2 linked regions of the Homo sapiens genome follow. The protein of the gene in region 1 purifies or fractionates together with the protein of each later gene. This does not show direct contact. Each region holds a gene or a part of one and is shown on either strand. Other genes may lie near its edges.

Region 1 (7,345 bases):
TACTGTTTTAAATGTTGACATGTTTTTTTTTCAAATAATTATTATCAGCCATGTTTATGTATGTATTTCTTTTTCTTTCTTTCTTTTTTTTTTAAGCGATCAAGTCTTGCTGTGTCACCCAGGCTGGAGTGCAGTGGTGCAGTGGCGTGATCTTGGCTCACTGCAACCTCCCTCTCCCAGGTTCTAGCAATTCTGCTGCCTCAGCCTCCTGAGTAGCTGGGACTACAGGCACATGCCACCACTAATTTCTTGTATTTTAGTAGATACGGGTTTTCACCGTGTTGCCCCGGCTGGTCTCGAACTCCTGAGCTCAGGCAATCCTCCTGCCTTGGCCTCCCAAAATGCTGGGATTACAGGCATGGGCCACCGTGCCTGGCTTATGTATGTATTTCTTAATGATTTATGATGAATAAGATGAAAAGAAAAAGTACAGTTGCATTTCTTCTCAATATGATTATATATTTATGTGTAATTGCAATTTAAAACAGTATTAAAAACAATACAGTTCAGTGTTAATTTTTTTCTTAGATTTAACTTATTATTTTTAACTATATGTTTTGTGAAACATTTAAAACTGAAAAGATAAATCAATAATACTAAGATGGTCACTTAGATTGTCTGGTTGCTTTTATTCAGTTAATATAAGATGCTGTGATATTAATAAACCGTTAATACTAGGATTTGTAATTAACCTCAACGATATTCACATTTGACCATGTTTGTAATCAGCCACTGTCAAGATCCCTCTAATTTTAATATTCTATGAGCTCATAGTGTTATACTGCTAAAGGGTTCACATTTAGTCTAAAACCAGAAGGGAACTAATAAAGCATTAACAACACAGAGGGGAAAATGATAAAGTACTCAAGATAGGCATATCAATACATTTTCATCCAGTATACATATCTACATGGAAGGCCCAAATCATAAGATCGCTCTTAAGCATGGAATCAGAGCAAGGGGAGTTAGTAGGACAATCTTGATAACTTCTGTCATTAAGCCACTTCACCTTGTTTCATCCAATTCCTGAAAGGAAAGACCTACTGCACATCCCAGAGAATGATATCCAGAGGCAGGGACTGCTTCTGTTTACAGTGTGGGAGCCTTACCATAAATTTTGGACATTCTCTTTCTCCCATTCTCCACCCTTTAAAAACATAGCAAATAAAATGTACTATAAGAAGAGTAAAGTATCAATTACCTTCTGAAATTTAAGATGGTATATTTTGACTGTGTTCATTAGAGGCAGATTTAACCTAGATTGACCAAACAATTAATTTTAAAATGGACGTTTTTCCATAGAATTATCAGGGATGAAAACTAACAATTTTTCTTTCCTATTTTTGTTTTTTGGTTTTTGTTGCAAACCGAAGCCCCTTCCATCACTGCAGCATAAAGAATGTAAGGGAACAGGAAATTGAAACTTTCAGTAAGAGCAAGATGTATTTAAGATGAAGCAATAGTAATTTTGCTAATCTTTAACCAAAATTCTCTCTCTAACACTGTGAGAGTGGAGATTTCTCCTTAGTATGAATTTAAGTGCACGATGATTATGCTACTCTGATTTTGATAGTATAGCATGGATTTATTAAGTCACAGCTGCAAAATAGTCTTAAGCCATGATTGTATGTAATCACATCCCATCAAAACAAAATTTTCTGGTTGTGTAAATTACTTCGTATTCCATAGATAAAATGGTGATCAAAATAGTTACCTACTTTGAGTCCATTTTTGTAGAAAGCAAGCCCAGGAAGATTACATACCATGCTTAATTTGAATACCTCCAAAATCTAGGTTTTCAGAGCAGCATTAATCTTCTAAGCCTCACGAATATCACAGAATTTTGAATTTTGATCTCTTAAAATTGCTATGCAATAATTTAACCTGATGGAGATACACTGTAGTTATTAAAAGACAGAAAATGCAAAGTTTAGGGAAGACTTCTGGCTAAGAGAGCCGAGTTCAGATCCTTAAGTGGCAGTTCACTTATTAGCTATGTGACTTTGGGACAGTTACTAATTCTTTATGGGATATGGTTTCCTCAATATGTAAACTATATATAACAGTGCAGCTGCTTTTGTAAAGATTTTAATAATGGGGCATATAGCAGACATTTTAAATGTTAGCTCCTACTTCTACTCTTTCCCCATGTTTTAGGCCAATCTAGAATTTATTTTTATTTTTAATTCTTATTTTTTTGAGACAAGGTCTGGCTCTATGGCACAGCTGGAGTACTCATTGCAACCTCACCCTCCCAGGTTGTAAGCGACCCTCCCACCTCAGCCTCCCAAGTATCTGGAACTACAGGCGTGCACCACCATGCCAGGCTAAGTTTTGCATTTTTGGTAGAGACAGGGTTTTGTCGTGTTGCCCAGGCTGGTCTCAAACTCCTGGACTCAAGGCACCCACCTTGGCCTCCCAAAGTACTGGGATTACAGGCCTGCACCTCTGCGCCCGGCTGGCCAGTCTAGAGTTTTCTCGATTGTGAGGAAACAGGTAACAGAATGTACCTCTGTCCAAAGTAAGATACATATTTTATATCTGTCTCTCAACCCAGTAAACACAGCATATATAATTGAAACAAAAGTTTCACAAAATAGTATTTATCATATTATGTGCCATGTACTATGTATTATTACTGTCTGTTTCCTATTAAAACATAAGCACCATAAGGGTAGGGGTATTTGCCAGTCTTTGTTCACTTGTGTACCCCCAGAACTTAGAACAATGTTTGGCACCTAGGACACAAGAATTTTTTGTGTCTGTGTTAAGTGAAAGAATGAATGACTAAATTGTACCTACCATGACACAATGGTGTTAAGCTCTTCGAAGTGTTTTTCTTATTTATTCCACAGTTAGACATGTATTATTATTATTATTATTATTATTAAGAGACAGAGTTTCACTCTTTCACCCAGACTGGATTGAAGTGGCACAATCTCGGTTCACTGTACCCTCCACCTTCCGAGTTCAAATGATTCTCCTGCCTCAGCCTCCCAAGTAGCTGGGATTACAGGCCTGCACCACCACACCTGGCTAATTTTTGTATTTTTAGTAAAGACAGTGTTTCACCATGTTGGCCAGGCTAATCTTGAACTCCTGACCTCAGGTAATCCACCCGCCTCAGCCTCCCAAAGTGCTAGGATTACAGGCGTGAGCCACCGCGCCTGGCCCGGTAGAAATTATTTACATGATTGTCATCACTGTATATCTTACATATGCAATATACAGCAGAGAGACAATTTCTGGTCCTTCAGTTTCGGAGAAGGAAAAGCAAAGCAGTGGTTATGCTGTGATGTTCATCCTGGTGGTGATGGGGGTGGGGTGGGGTGGATTTCTTTTTCTAAGGAGGACTGAGGCAGGAAAATAGGGTCTGGAGGCAGGAAACATAAGGCCTATTCACACTTCAGCTGTAACAGGAAATATCCTCTCCATAGGGCGTAGGCCATAAATGACTTTGTAACTTTACTTCATCTTCTCCCTTTACATAGGGCATACCCAAAGTAACCAATGGAATCCTCTAGGGGGTATTTAAACTCCCCAAAATTCTGTAACCGGGCCTTTGAGCCCCTATGCTCGCCCGTTCCCACACTGTGGAGTGTACTTTCATTTTCAATAAACCCCTTCATTCCTTCCTTGCTTTGTTTGTGCGTTTTCTTCAATTCTTTCTTCAAGATGCCAAGAACCTGGACACCTTCTACCAGTAACAGGATGACAGGCAAGAGTCTTATCAAGATGCTCATGAACCAAAGTATACCTCTGACGTCTTGATTCTTGGAGTCCAAGCCTAGACTGCTTTGGTAAGCAGCAAAGGAAGAAAACGCAAGATAGTTTCCTGAACAATCTCCTGATGCAACTGTTTACAGGTTTCATGTCAGCACCCAAGGGGAGCTTATGGCCAGAGACTCCCACAGTCTCTGTGTGTTCCCAGTGCTTGGGCTCAAGGGAGGCGCGCTGCGGGCTGAAGGCTCAGGTCAGAACCGCAGGGGCTTGGGCGGAGGCGGACTCCGGTCGAAGGCTGTGGGGTGAGAACTCTCGCCCCCTCTACTCGGCCGCCGCCGGGTGGCACGCCCACGCCGCGCCTTCCGGTTGGTCCTTGAGGCGACGGGTGAGGCACAGCTGAGCGCCAAAGCCACAGGCTGGGGCGCTAACGCCCCCGCTCAGCGCTCTGCGCTCCAGACAGCTGCGAGCTGGAGTAGGAAGGTTCAGGCGGTGGCGGAGAGTGCGCTGGAGGCTGGAGGGCCAGGAGGCGGGAAGCTTCCCGCACGGGGGCGCTGTCACCTGCCTGTGGGAGGAGCCAGAGAGGGACCTGGCTCTGCTGCTCTGAAGCACCGGAGTCGGGAGAACCCATCCAGACATGAAGAGCGCCAAAGGTATTGAGAACTTGGCTTTTGTCCCCTCCAGCCCAGACATCCTGCGCCGCTTGTCTGCGTCGCCCTCCCAAATCGAAGTCTCTGCCTTGTCCTCTGACCCCCAAAGAGAGAATTCTCAGCCACAGGAGCTTCAGAAGCCCCAGGAGCCCCAGAAGTCACCAGAGCCATCTCTGCCTTCAGCCCCTCCCAATGTCTCCGAAGAGAAGCTCCGGTCACTGTCGCTGTCCGAGTTTGAGGAGGGGTCTTACGGCTGGAGGAACTTCCATCCTCAATGTCTCCAGCGCTGCAACACACCTGGAGGCTTTCTGCTTCACTACTGCCTCTTGGCCGTCACGCAAGGTAAAGTCCAGCGCCCGCTTGAGGCTCGGGCCAGTGGAGAGCGAGGTGGGCACGGCGAGCCAGCCGGGGGAGAGGGCAGGTGCGCGGGGTCCGTGGGACGGTGGACGCGCCCTGCAAGGTGGCCCCGGGTTTGGAACTTGCTTGCGCTCTCACCAAGGTCAACCTACCGGCCCCCAGCCAGCCTTCCAAAGTTCAGCTTCTCCTTTATCACTACAGTTCAAACTTGCAATACAAGCCTTTTTCTCTTTTGTGTTTTACCTCAGTTTAGCGGATTCAAGACTTACAGGGAAGATTACAAGAACCTTCCTTTGGGAAAGGTATACCCTGGGGAGTTTATTTTACATTATAAAGACAAAAATTTACCTAGGCACTCTTTAAAGGTATTTTACTTTTACATTTGTTTCATTGCCTCAGGGGAAGGAGTAATACGTTTGCAGGTGGGAGTGGGATGCCTTACAAGGAAGAAAGCTATGAAAAATCTATCGTATAAATTAGATACAGACATTCATGTTTTGTGAGTGTATTTAGTTTGAGAGTATGTGGTCACCAGAGGAGCCCAGTGAGTAAATTAGCAAAGGCTCCCGACGTTGTTGAGCCTTAATCTTCATTGTGTTACATTAGTTATCCAGCATCTGTTTTGTTCTAGGATCTCTTTTAGGTTCTCTTGGGAGTTACAGATTCAGTTCAGATTTATACCCTCAGGGGCTTGCAATCTAAGCTCAGTTTGGAGGAGTGATATCCTGGAGGGAGAACAGCTCCCTTGAAAGAAGGCACAGGGAAGGTTAAAGCTGCTTCTGGTGTGTTCAATACAGAGGTTGAAGGAAAATAGGAAGTTAACCTGAGTTGACTTTGAGGAAGGGTGGAGAAGAGGTGGAGAGGAGTCAAGAAGGACATGCCGAAGCTTAGCTGAATTGGAATGTAGATATTTTTTGGTCACTTGAGTCATAGTCCGAGAATATTTTCTGTATAATCAGTCAAGGATTAATTGGAAGAAATACAACCTTAGAAATATAGATTTTAGAGGGTTGGAAACAGCTCATTTTTTAAGTTAATAGAAAACTAAGTCAAAGCCTAAGTATACTTTTTGTTCTTATTCTTCCTCTTCAAGGAACCCAGGGCCCCTTGCTTTGCGCATTAGATGCTAAGTAACCATTTATTGATTGCAAGTCCGCTGCAGCTCTTCTACTGAAGGTAGATTTGTGTTGAAGAATTATTTCCCTGTCCACTTTTCTTGTCCCTACCAAAGTTCCCCTCCATTAATGTCTTGATCATAGTTTTACAAAATTGGTAATTGTGAAGCATCTCAGTGTCAAAGGAATGCGAAGATAAAAAAGTTGGACACAAGTAAAAAATGTCTTATCTTGTGTATTATCTTAAAATTCCTCTGAAATTTCTATATTATTCCAAAATATAACATTTTATATTTAATATAAAATATTGCCTAAAATTGTTATCAAATGTAATTGTCACTCCTAGAAAATTTGTCAGGTTTAGTCTGGAGCAGCATCTACCCAGAGGTCCCCAATTTAAGAAGCTTAATCTGAGATAATAGTGACCCAATAGGCTGGGCATGGTGGCTCACGCCTGTAATCCCAGCACTTTGGGAGGCCGAGGCGGGCGGATCAGTTGAGGTCAGAACTTGGATACCAGCCTGGCCAACATGGTGAAACCCGTCTCTACTAAAAATACAAAAAATTATGGCCGGGCGCCGTGGCTCACGCCTGTAATTGCAGCACTTTGGGAGGCTGAGGCAGGCAGATCAACTGAGGTCAGGAGTTCGAGACCAGCCTGGCCAACACGGTGAAACCCCGTCTCTACCAAAAATACAAAAACTAGTTGGGCATTGTGGCGCATGCCTGCAATCCCAGCTACTTGGAGGGCTGAGGTGGGAAAAACACTTGAACCCAGGAGGCGGAGTTTGAAGTGGACCGAGATCGTGTCATTGCACTCCGGCCTAGGCAACAGAGGGAAACTCTGTCTCAAAACAAAACAAAACACCACAAAAATTAGCCGGGTGCGGTGGCACACGCCTGTAGTCCCAGCTATTCAGGAGGCTGAGGCACGAGAATGGCTGGAACCCGGGAGGTGGAGGTTGCAGTGAGCCGAGATGGCGCCACTGCACTCCAGCCTGGTGACAGAGCGAGGCAAGGTCTCAAAAAAAAGTATAATAATAAAAAGTGTGACCCAATAAATTACTAGTTTACGTTTCAGTTTAAGTTTGAATGCCTGAAAACTTTATTGCCATGTTTCTCAAACATGATCCTTAAGATCATTTCCATGGTATATTTAAATATACATTTAATTGGAAAGAAAAACAAAATTTCTCGAATGAGTTTATTTAACCCAGCATTTCTCAAAGACAAACAGGGATTCTCTAAGTACTTAATTTTCTAATGTGCTTCCTATTGTCATTCATTTACAACAGAGAGATGTAGTATGGAGCGTTTCCTGATTTTTTTGTTTTTGTTTTTTTAAGTAGTGTTCTTGGAACTTGTATAGCATAGAATTCACTTTAAGAGTCATTGGATTAATGTGCTATCCTTCCTGAGGAGTTTACAAATTTTTTTTTCAAAGAGAAGTTTTACCATAAAGACAATTCTTTCTATTAACTAATTTTTAATCAGTATGGCAAG
Region 2 (7,026 bases), on another chromosome or scaffold:
TCTCATTACTTCAGTACAAATCTTTTTAATATTCTGTGTAGTGAAATGGAAACTACATATTAACTACTTCTGTTGCATATCAAACTATGAGGGTTAGCTAGAGAAAAATCACTCAAGATGGGAGTTATAAGCTCAACTAGTCACTTTTTTCATGCGACACCATTTTTACTTGAATGACAACTATCAATCACGACTGAGTGTCTGAAAGATACTTTCTAGAAAATGAACAAAGTGAGGCTGTCATCTACAAAGGAAACAACTGAGCTTGTCAATGATAAAATGTGAGTTTTCAATAGAAAATTAGAATGTTGGAAAAGTTGTGTGTGACACTATGAACATAGTGCCTTCCCAAAATGTAAATGATTTTCTAATAACATCAGTGGTAATATTAATGAATGTAAGTTTTGGATATTGCATATGAAATACATCAACATTTAGTAGGTCTGCCCAACTCAATGAACCAACATTTTCTAAATGAGCAATGCCTGGTGTTATAAAATCATACATGGGTAAAATATTCATTCAATGAGCAAGATACACAAATAGATTTTAACAAAACAGGGTATAAAAAGCTCACTGATATGATTTAGCGTTCCATATTACAACAATTAACCTTTAATAAACTAATATTTATTGAATTTTGATGCAGTATATCAAAGAAATCTGCAATTATCTAAAAAGCTATTACAATACTCCTCTCTTTACAGCAACATACCGTCGTAAGGACAAATTTTCTTCATATACTTCAACCAAAACAACCTAACAGAACAGACTGAATGAAGAAGCAGGTGAGAATTCAGCTGCCATCTATTCGGCCAAACACAGAGATGTGCAAAAATGTGACAATGCCAGTTGTTGCAACAAAAATGTTAATGTTTTGGCATAGTTATTTTTCTTTTAAAAATATGCTATTTATGTTAACAAGCAATGAGTTTGTACTGCTATCTTTAGCTACCACTGCCTAATACTATAACTACTGATAACAGCACACAAAAGCAAAAGCTCTTTGAAATCAGTAATTTTTATGAGTAGAAAGGGTTACTGAGACTGAAAAATATAAAAACTGCTAGTGTAAGGACACATAAGTATCTATTTAATACTCTGCATAACACAATATTTGTGATGGAATACAATTTCACATAACATTGTTTTGTCTTTACTTTTTAAAAGAAAACCTATGAAAGACAGGTCACCCTGAATTTCAAAGAGCAAAGAAAATTGAGAAACATGGCCAGGCAGGGTGGCTCACATCTGTAACCCCAGCACTTTGGGAGGCCAAGGCGGGCGGATCACTTGAAGTCAGGAGTTCAAAACCAGCCTGGCCAACGTGGTAAAACCCTGTCTCTACTAAAAATACAAAAATTAGCTGGGCATGGTGGCACATGCCTGTAATCCCAGCTATTTGGAAGTCTGAGACAGGAGAACTGCTTGAACCTGGGAGGCGGAGGCTGCAGTGAGCCAAGATCGCGTCACTGCACTCCAGCCTGGGTGACAGAGCAAGACTCCATCTCAAAAAAAAAAAAAAGAAAACTGAGGAACACATCTTTATACCACTATTTTAACTAAAAACTACAGGAAAAACTGTGTTCTACAAAGATAGTAAGATCTAGTCCCAAACTGGTACCAACATATTCCTATCTCTTTTTACTTCAAAATTACTTTCTAGAAAATCATAATCACAAAATTAGATTTTATTAACTAAAGAAAAAAATAATTACCAAACCCATATCATCAGCTAAAATTCCTCCATGGACATTTTCTGGTCGGTCCTTCTCAGAAAAATTTGTTATTGTGTTATAGTATAAGTCATTTCGCTGTTCCCAGAATGGTGGAAGTTCTTTGCTATTTTCCCGTGACACCATCCAAGCTAGAGCTTGTTTTTGATGTGGAAGCAGTGGTGTTTCAATAGCCTATAAATAAAAAGTCATAAAGCGAAATACATTAAGCCATTCCTTTTTCACATGCAGATCCTGTGATTAAACAAAAAGTAGATTCTAAGTATATTTAAACATTCTGAGTAGTCTTAAATAAAAAATATTGGTTCAATACCTCAGCTGGTTCCATTTCATGGGTTTTATCATCTTCTTTTAAATCTTCAAACAATTTGTCAAATTCTGTTTTAAGCTACAATAAACAGCAACAAGAAACAATGTAAAACAAACTAATTAAAATAATACTTGCATTTAAGTCAGATTTGAAATCATTTAATTAACTGGCGTTAATGTCAAACGGGCCAGGAGTGGTGGCTCATGCCAATAATCTCAGCACTTTGGGAGACCAAGGTGGGAGGATCACTTGAGCTCAGGAGTTTGAGACCAGCCTGGATAACATAGTGAGAGATCCCATCTCTACAAAAAAATTTTTAAAAAATTAGCCAGGCATGGGGGTGCATGCCTGTAGTTCTGGCTCCTAGGGATGCTGAGATGGGAGGATCACTTCAGCCTAGTAGGTAGAGGATAGAGTGAACCATGATTATGCCACTGCACTCCAGCCTGGGCAAGAAAGTGAGACCCTGTCCCAAAAAATTAAGAAATTGAAATTAAATTAAATTTAAAAACCACAAACTAGTCAAACGCCAAAAAGGCACATAAATCAACTCTAGAATTACACTACTCACTGAAGAGCGAATGAACAGGTGCTTTAGTTGTTAGGAGGTAAAAGAATATAAAAGAATTTTAAGTCCCGAGTTTCAGTCACAGTTTTATCACAAATAAGCTTATATGTAAGTTTCAGCAAGACTTGACCTTTATGGCCCCATGTCTTATTCCTATAAAATGAAAGGGATGAACTAAATTTAGATTGTCTCTAAGGTTCCTTCTGCCATTAAAATTCTGTGATGCTATCAGTTGTATTCAAAATATTTTCTCAGTCCTACCAGGTCAATGACATTCCATTTATTATTACTGCAATAAGGAACTTGCCATGCACTATAGGATACTTTTATTATTATGCTAACTTAATTGACTATTTAAACTAGGTTAGTCCAATTTTATATCAACATATATGTGATACAGATATTTTTGAAAATTAACACATGAACACAGCAGCAGCTCAGAAGAAATCAGGCCAGGTCTAAAAAATCAGAAGTAACCGGGGGCTTATCTACCAGAAACAAGCTCAAGTCCTTCTAACAATAAGCAGGGTAAATATGGTAACTACAATTAGTAGATAAAAGGACTAACACTGGTAGATACAAACATCAAAAAAGTTTTAATGTTATTTTTAAATTGATCTGCATTAATTACTTTATATACTTTTTTTTCAAAGAAATTCAGCATAACTCATCCTAAATTACAAATTAGACAATGTGAAGAATTTGGAGTTAAATCTTTAGCACTGCATTTGCAAAATTACTGAAAGGAGTTAAGTCTCAGCTTCAATTTTTTTCTTAAAATTACTACTTGAACATTTAAAACATTTCAGATACAAAAATATGCCGTGCATAAACAGGAACGTGTGTGTTTTGTATGTTGGGTACAAATGTTCACGTATGGATTTATTCCTTATCAGTACTTTTTATATAAAATGTTAACATATATATATTCTATTTATTCTATAACATGTTTCATTATAACTTAATATATTTGAAGACCACAAATACCCACACGTACATATTCATCCTGTTCTTTTAAATACAAACCTGCAACATTTAAAATTCACTTTTAGATTACAAAATAAAAGAGAAGCACACCTGTTCAGTTGTCATCTGTACTGCAGCATGCACTGGCATACTATAGCTTGGTCCAGCTCTTCCAGAGCCCCAACCACTTTCCAAATTGAATCCTAAAGCTATAATTTACAAAATAAAAAGAATAAAGCCATCAAATAAAGTAGGTTTTTATCTTTTATTAAGTAGCTTTTAAAATATGCATTAACAGGGCTGGGTGCTGTGGCTCATGCCTGTAACCCAAGCACTTTGGGAGGCCAAGGCAGGTGGTTTGCCTGAGTCCAGTAGTTTGAGACTAGCCTGGGCAACATGGTGAGATTCTGTCTCTACAAAAAATACAAAAATTAGCAGAGCGTGATGGTGTGCGCCTGTAGTCCCAGCTACTCAGGAGGCTCAGGTGGAAGGACTGCTGGAGCCCAGGAGGTCAAGGTTGCACTCAGCCACTGATCGTGGCCACTGTACTCTAGCCTGGGTGACAGAGCAAGACTCTGTCTCAAAATATATACACAAATAAATAAATAAAACGTGCATAACAAACTGCATTAAAAGCCTTGTATTTTAGAGGTATTTTAAAAGCTAAATACTAAATCACTAAAAAAACAAGTAATTCCACATTATTTGAACAAACTCTTGCCAAGCAATCCTTTTCATTCGCTATCAGAAGATTATTTTTGCCTAAAATTTATCAAAAAGAATGTTTAAAGTCAGGGGTTTCCAGATGTTACCATTAGGGAAAATTAGGGGAGGGTATATATGAGACTTCATTGCATATATACTTTTTCTTTAATTTTTTTAATATCCCCTCACTCTTACTGTGTATATTTTTATGTGTGAATCTATTTCAATAGAGGCAAAAGGAAAAATCAGAGATTTCCTCAAAAAGACTCCTGAAAAAAAGTTGTACCTTGGAGCCTTGAGCACAAATTAGCCAACAAACTCCAAGAGAGAATAAATGTTTCATAATCCCTGCATCTTACAATATCAGAATAATATTAAGTGAAACCCTAAACTTACTTTTTGGTGCAGGACCCAATTTAAATCCATGTTTCTTCAACTGATCTGAAACCGCTTTTCTATTTTCTTCTTTTCCCCAAAAAGTCATATGCAGAGGCATGGTAAAAGCATTGTTTGCACCAAAAGGAACTACCCTATTATATTTGGGAGAAAAAGAAAGGGAAATCAGAAGCATTACTTTTTATCCCCACTAAGAATTAGTTCAATATTTTAAGTGTATCATTTACATTTTACATTGAAGTAAAGTAATAAGGAACTAGTTGGGCAGACTTGAAAGAAAAAAAGGAAAAGAAATAGAACCATAAACAATCAGAAGGGTGATTTTTAGAAACAGAGTGCCAGAAAAAATTGAGAAAATGGAATAAAGCAGTTTTAAAAATGCAAGGATGGCCTGTAAACAAGATTGTAATATAAGTAAAATAAGTTAAATCAAAGGGTAGAGTTTGGCTAACGGAACCACTGAGGGTAGTAACTCATTCTGCTTGGAAAATGGGAAATGCAAGAACTTGTGATTCACTAAGTTATTCTCAATAACTGAAAAACCTGATAAACTGAAAAAGGAGAAAACAAAGTGAGACATTATGAGCATTTATTTTCTCTTCAAACTCACCTAGGATTATATGAATATCCTAAAAATTAGAATTAGAATATCAAGATCCTAAATATTCCAGATACTTAAATTGAGATCACAAGTACAAATGCCTAAAAGAGAAAAGGTAACTGAAAGATTGAAAGAGTTTAGAAAAAGAAAAAAGAAACAGGTGATAAAACTGGGAGAGCATATGCCCTAGCTAAAGGGAGAGTTCCAGTCAACTATTGTCATATGGAAGTGACAACTCATCCTGCATTGCCAGATTTCCCACTTGTCAAGAGAAAAATAAGTTTTTTGTATTTAAGAAAATAAATTAATATGTATAAAATGCGGACTTAGCTATTTCAATAATTAGTACTGAACGAAAAAATGTCTAAAACACTGCAGGGCAAAATGAAATTCACCTACATCATATCACAGAATACCAGTTTATAACCTCTGATATAAACAAACACTTCCAGGCTGGGCACGGTGGCTCACGCCTGTAATCCCAGCATTTTGGGAGGCCGAGGCGGGCAGATCACCTGAGGTCAGGAGTTCGAGACAGCCTGGCCAACATGGCAAATCTCTGTCTCTACTAAAAAATACAAAAATTAATTGGGCATGGTGGCAGGCACCTGTAGCTACTCAGGAGGCTAAGGCAGGGAGAGTTGCTTGAACCCTGGAGGCGGAGGTTGCAGTCAGCCGAGATCACACAACTGCACTGCAGCCTGGGCAACAGAGTGAGACTTCGTCTCAAAATAAATAAATAAATAAATAAACAAATAAACACTTCCAAATTCCTAAACCTAGGTACCAAAAGGTTTGGAGAAATGGAATGTACTTCCTAATATTTGAACCAAGGTCTATTTTCTCCATGGTAATAATTCCATAGGAAAATGAGAGGACAATTGTTTGATGGCTGGGGTAGTAGAAGTATGTAAAAGGAGAAATAAAACATTTATTTAACACGTACCAAAAGTACAGTGATAGAAATTGTTAGCATACCTTTATAGGCTCTAACAAGAAGCCCTAACAAGTTCAAAGATGACTATAATTCACAATTATTAAAACTAAATTCTGAAAGTACATTACCCTTCAATTTGTGCCAATTTGTTGTCCATGATATAGGCCAAAGCACCTGCAAGCTCTTTCTTTAAATGGCCAACTTGATTTCCATTCACATTGTTTACTTTAATTGCATTCTTATCATAAGGGTTATTAGGATCTCGTTGTAATGCAACCATTTCATTATTATTAACCTAATAAAAATGATAAACAGATAATATTACATTATAAATAATAGACAATAACTTTGTTATACTTTATCTGGGATTTCCATTCATTTTTTAATGCTACTGCTAAACACTGCACATAAGAAAAATATATTTTCTAGACACAAACTACAGAAATATTAATATATATTATTATGACTCCTTAATATTATTTTTCTAATCTATATTCATTAGGAAGTTAACAAATCCTTAATGTCTTAAAAAATAGTCAAATGTAAACTAGCAAATTCAAATTATCTAAAATTTTCAACATCATAACTTCTGAAAAATAGCCAACCCTTATTGAGCGCTTACTATGTGCCAAGCATTGGTCTAAGTACATTGCACAGACTGACTTTTTAAATCCTCACAGCTCTATTGGGAGGTACTATCATTATTCCCATTTTACAAATGAAGAAACTGAAGCACAGAAAAGTAACTTGCCCAAGGTCACAAAGCTAAAAGGTAGCAGAGCTAGGATCTGAACCCACACAGGGTGG

Evidence for each region.
Region 2: the proteins of SLCO4C1 (region 1) and HLTF purify together in Homo sapiens (affinity purification with mass spectrometry; 2 studies listed by BioGRID and IntAct, with this or other methods). This does not show direct contact.

Annotation. Positions count from the first base shown.
Region 1 is NC_000005.10:102,293,275-102,300,619, reverse strand, and holds the start of SLCO4C1 (solute carrier organic anion transporter family member 4C1), read left to right. Parts: upstream 1-4,335; 5' UTR 4,336-4,357; coding exon 4,358-4,712; intron 4,713-4,975; exon of another isoform or gene 4,976-5,092; intron 5,093-5,820; exon of another isoform or gene 5,821-5,903; intron 5,904-7,345. UniProt on the Homo sapiens protein: Mediates the transport of organic anions such as steroids (estrone 3-sulfate, chenodeoxycholate, glycocholate) and thyroid hormones (3,3',5-triiodo-L-thyronine (T3), L-thyroxine (T4)), in the kidney.
Region 2 is NC_000003.12:149,069,534-149,076,559, forward strand, and holds part of HLTF (helicase-like transcription factor), read right to left. Parts: intron 6,515-7,026; coding exon 6,348-6,514; intron 4,816-6,347; coding exon 4,682-4,815; intron 3,790-4,681; coding exon 3,692-3,789; intron 2,125-3,691; coding exon 2,050-2,124; intron 1,911-2,049; coding exon 1,719-1,910; intron 1-1,718. UniProt on the Homo sapiens protein: Has both helicase and E3 ubiquitin ligase activities. Possesses intrinsic ATP-dependent nucleosome-remodeling activity; This activity may be required for transcriptional activation or repression of specific target promoters.